Linked DNA regions of Homo sapiens: region 1 is linked to region 2. The links come from fine-mapping of genetic effects on gene expression. A gene starts in region 2. The other region holds a variant in brackets. All regions are shown on one strand. Distances are between the middles of the regions.

Region 1 (2,500 bases), 55 kb before region 2:
TTGGCCCTGGAATTTACATTTTTATCAAGCTCCTTAAGTCTTTAGAAACACTGAAGTATGCAACTATTTAAGTATCTCTAGATTCCCATCTAAGAACATCTGTTGTAATGAGAGGACATACATTGAAGTCATAGGAAGAGAATGAAATAATCCTGGTATCTTGAATCTCCTGGCCACATTTGTTCTCCATCTTTGTAACAGAGAGAAGGGTGCCTGTTCTGAGAGAAGGGAGGAGGGCAGGAGGGAGCCCTAGGGGGCAAAGAAGGTGTATGGATGGACTAGTAAGACTAACTTAGCAGAGTATCCTCCTCCAATCTCATTTAGGACCGACTGTGATTCCTCCACCACCTCACTCTGCTCCTTCCCTGTTGCCAATGTCTCGCTGACTAAGGGTGGACGTGATCGGGTGAGTATGGGAACTAGAGAGAGGTTTCATTAGAGCTTTGATGACTCAAAATAGGAAGACTTGAGAAAGGCCTAGAGAGAAGGAATTGAGTAATAAGAGACTGGCCGGGCACGGTGGCTCACGCCTGTAATCCCAGTACTTTGGGAGGCTGAGGTGGGCAGATCACCTGAGGTTGGGAGTTCGAGACCAGCCTGACCAACGCGGAGAAACCCCGTCTCTACTAAAAATACAAAATTAGCTGGGCGTGGTGGTGCATGCCTGTAATCCCAGCTACTTGGGAGGCTGAGGCAGGAGAATCACTTGAATCCGGGAGGAGGAGGTTTCGGTGAGCCGAGATCACGCCATTGCACTCCAGCCTGGGCAACAAGAATGAAGCTCTGTCTTAAAAAAAAAAAGGAGACTAAGAGGAAGGCTTTGAAGGAAAAGAAATTAAAATTAATTGTGTGTATTGATGGATCTTTCTGCAGCAGGTGTTAGAAATGTTCTTTCTCAACATAGTCCCTGACTTACGGTAATTCAACTTAAGAATTTTTCAACTTACTGTGGTGCAAAAGCGACATACATTCCTTAGACACTGTACTTCAGGTACCTATACAACCATTCTGTTTTTCACTCTCTTTCTTTTTTTTTTTTTTTTTCCAGACAGTCTCACTCTGT[C/T]GCCAGGCTGGATTGCAGTGGCGCGATCTCAGCTCACTGCAACCTCCACCTCCTGGGTTCAAGCGATTCTCCTGCCTCAGCCTCCCGAGTAGCTGGCACTACAGGAGCGCGCCACCACACCCAGCTAATTTTTTTGTATTTTTAGTAGGGATGGGATTTCACCATGTTGGCCAGGATGGTCTGGATCTCTTGACCTTGTGATCTGCCCGCCTCCCAAAGTGCTGGGATTATAGGCGTCAGCCACCACGCCCAGCCTGTTTTTCACGTTCAGTACAGCATTCAATAAATCACATGGGATATTCACTACTTTATTATAAGTATAGGCTTTGTGTTAGATGATTGTAATCAACTATAGGTAGGCTAACATAAGTGTTCTGAGCATGTTTAAGGTAGGCTAGGCTAAGTAAGCTATGATGTTCTTTAGGTTAGGTGTACTAAATGCGTTTTCAGCTTGTGATAGTTTCAACTTAGATGGGTTTATCGGAATGTAACCCCATCATAAACTGAGGACCATCTGTATCAGGTGAAGTATGATCTATTTATCTGCTAGGTAAAGTGAGCAATATCTGCTAGGTGAAGTAAGCAATGTTTTAGACCTAAATGAACAAATGAGCTATTACATTGGAATAAGATGGGCATCTACCCAAGAGTTTTGAAAGCATTTATATAACATTATGAAACTGTTGTCAAATATATGCATCGTGTCATTACAAAGGGTACTGTGCCAGAGGACTGGCCAGATGCCAGTGTGATGTCAACAAACCTGGGAACCCTGAGAAATGCATATGGGGACTGGGCCCTCTATAGTAGGCAAGCTAGAGGAGGCTCTCATAAAGGATACGTTCTTTTTTTTTTTTTGAGACAGAGTCTTGCTCTGTCGCCAAGACTGGAGTGCAGTGGCGCGATCTCACTTCACTGCAACCTCCAACTCCTGGGATCAAGCGATTCTCCCACCTCAGCCTCCTGAGTACCTGGGATTACAGGTGCCCACCACCACACCCGGCTAACTTTTGTATTTTTAGCAGAGACAGGGTTTCACCATGTTGGTCATGCTGGTCTAAAACTCCTGACCTCAGGTGATCCACCCACCTCGGCCTCCAAAAGTGCTGGGATTACATGCGTGAGCAACCACACCCAGCCTGAAGTTTTATTTATTTATTTATTTATTTGAGACGGAGTTTCTTTCCTGTCGCCCAGGCTACAGTGCAATGGCACGATCTTGGCTCGCTGCAACCTCTGCCCCCTGGGTTCAATCGATTCTCCTGCCTCAGCCTCCCAAGTAGCTGGGGTTACAGGCGTATGCCACCATACCTAGCTGATTTTTGTATTTTTAATAGAGACGGGGTTTGATCATGTTGGCCAGGCTGGTCTTAAACTCATGATCTCAGGTGATCTGCCCACCTCAGCCTCTTGAAGTGCTGGGATTACAGACATGAG
Region 2 (2,500 bases):
ATCCCCCTCCCAGCTCCTGGGACTGGTAAGGGCTGGGGTGCACCGCTTCTTTGCCTCTCTGAGGCTGCATGGACCCCCAGGTGTGGCCTCAGCCTGTCAGCTTCTCACCCGCCTGTCTCAGACATCCCCAGCTGGGCTCAAGGCTGTCCTGCAGCTGCTGGTTGAAGGAGCCTTACATCGAGGCAACACAGAACTGTTTGGTGGGCAAGTAGATGGGGACAATGAGACTCTCTCAGTTGTTTCAGCTTCTTTGGCTTCTGCCTCCCTGTTGGACACTAACCGGAGGCACACTGCAGCTGTGCCAGGTCCTGGAGGGATTTGGTCAGTTTTCCATGCTGGAGTCATCGGCCGTGGCTTAAAGCCACCCAAGTTTGTCCAGTCACGAAATCAGCAGGAAGTGATCTATAACACCCAGAGCCTCCTCAGCCTCCTGGTTCACTGCTGCAGTGCCCCAGGGGGCACTGAATGTGGGGAATGCTGGGGGGCACCCATCTTGAGTCCAGAGGCAGCCAAAGCAGTGGCAGTGACCTTGGTGGAGAGTGTGTGTCCCGATGCAGCTGGTGCAGAGCTGGCCTGGCCCCCCGAGGAACACGCCCGGGCCACCGTGGAGCGGGATCTCCGCATTGGCCGGCGCTTCCGCGAACAGCCCCTGCTCTTTGAGCTGTTAAAGCTGGTAGCAGCTGCACCCCCAGCCCTGTGCTACTGTTCCGTGCTGCTTCGGGGGCTGCTGGCCGCCCTCTTGGGCCATTGGGAAGCCTCTCGCCACCCTGACACGACCCACTCCCCCTGGCACCTGGAGGCATCCTGCACCTTAGTGGCTGTCATGGCTGAGGGAAGCCTCCTGCCTCCGGCCCTGGGTAATATGCATGAAGTATTTAGCCAACTGGCACCTTTCGAGGTGCGTCTGCTGCTGCTCAGTGTCTGGGGTTTTCTCCGGGAGCATGGGCCCTTGCCTCAGAAGTTCATCTTCCAATCAGAGCGGGGTCGCTTCATTCGGGACTTCTCCAGGGAGGGTGGAGGTGAGGGTGGACCCCATCTGGCTGTGCTGCACAGTGTCCTCCACCGCAACATCGACCGCCTAGGTCTTTTCTCTGGCCGTTTCCAGGCACCTTCACCGTCCACTCTCCTTCGACAGGGGACGTAGCCTTTTCTTGCTCTGGAAGCCCAGGGAGGTTGAGCAGTGAGAGAGGGAAGGGACTAACGTGCTCCGGAAGGGTGGAGGTTTCTCTTCTAAGTCCTTGGTCTAAAGAGCGCTGTCACTTTTTTCTCTCCCACTTTTTTTTTTCTAAATAAAATTTGCCAACTTGAGAAAACCAGTCCAGTGCTTCTGTCATGCTGAGAGCGTGCAAAGTCTGACAGCGCCTGGCTCTGGACGTTCCCGCCCCTGGCCTGAAGCCCCGCCCCCTGCGATAATTTGGAGTGCGCACTCTACCAATGAGACAGCTGCCCGGCGGCGCTCAGGTCGAACCAATCATAAGGCCGGAAGGGGCGGGAACTAGGATACGTGGCTGAGCGCGCGCGATGGGGCGGGAGGTTTGGGGTCAAGGAGCAAACTCTGCACAAGATGGCGGCGGTAGCGGCAGTGGCGGCGCGTAGGAGGCGGTGAGGAGCCCGGAATCTGGGGGCGCGCCCGGGACGCCCCCAGATCCCCCAAGTCCCATTCCACTCCTTCCTGTGTGTCTCTTGACACTCTGCCACCCCCGGCCTCGTGAGGAACCTTTGTTCCTCTGGAGGCGGCCTCAGACGCCTCCGGTCTCCCCGTGGTAGATCCGAGCGACGCTGGGGGCCTTGCCTGTGGGGCTCCGGGCTCCCGCCCGGCGGTTTAGTAAAGCCACAGCTGTGCGTCTTTCTTGGTCTTGGCCGCTCTCAGCCGCCGCCCTCCTTTGGCTGCTTGCGGCGGTCAACGTCGCCGCCCCCTTCCTGCAGTGCGCGGGGTCGTCGGGGCGGGGGAAAAGATGCGGCCTGGCCTCGGGGAATGCAGCCTGCGGCCCCGCGGCCCCTCGGCTGAGCTGGAAGCACCGGGCCAGCAGTTAAGCCTGTACTACCCTTCTGGCTCTACCCTGTAGAGCTCCGAATCCTCCTCTGCCCTTGTCTTCACGTGAGCACCAGCTCTGGCTTAGTTCAGTGTCCACGGTCGCTGGGCACGGCCCAGGGTCCAGTAAGCTCACGGCGTGGATGGTGTTGCTCAAACACAACATGTAATCGAATGGCTTGGTCCACGCTCTCGGGTTTATATTACTGGGGAAAAAAAAAGATTCGAAACATATCACCAGTGCCACAAATGTTTACTAGGACCTAACGGATATACTGGGGTGGGGTAGGCGTGTACTCTCCAAAGCGATGAAGAAAGCGTGGATCATAAACTCAGTTCCCTCGGAGCCTGTGATCTGAAACAATAAATGCGTGCAACTTGCCCTGCAGCTTATTCCTGACTTTGGCCTATGAACACCTCTCTTGGGGTGGTCAAGGCCGCCGTGAATTCCTTAGGGCCCTCCAACAG

What was found. PIP is the estimated chance that this variant, and not a neighbour inherited with it, causes the effect. A credible set is the group of variants that fine-mapping cannot tell apart.
Region 1: its variant is the best candidate, but not a certain one, in a credible set for the expression of GANAB in whole blood (INTERVAL, PIP 0.89).

Annotation. Positions count from the first base shown.
Region 1 is chr11:62,700,374-62,702,873 of GRCh38, reverse strand. BSCL2 (BSCL2 lipid droplet biogenesis associated, seipin) reads left to right here. Exons shown (of 11, transcript NM_001122955.4): 3 at 325-406. It overlaps HNRNPUL2-BSCL2 (HNRNPUL2-BSCL2 readthrough (NMD candidate)), which reads left to right. Exons shown (of 24, transcript NR_037946.1): 16 at 325-406. Among named protein-coding and RNA genes, the nearest start is that of BSCL2, 5.8 kb to the left of the region's middle. The variant C/T (reference allele first, on the strand shown) is at 1,064.
Region 2 is chr11:62,645,664-62,648,163 of GRCh38, reverse strand. GANAB (glucosidase II alpha subunit) reads left to right here and starts at 1,551. Exons shown (of 24, transcript NM_198334.3): 1 at 1,551-1,602. The coding sequence starts at 1,565. INTS5 (integrator complex subunit 5) reads left to right here. Exons shown (of 2, transcript NM_030628.2): 2 at 1-1,316. The coding sequence ends at 1,144. RefSeq lists a silencer at 1,380-1,459 and an enhancer at 2,070-2,229.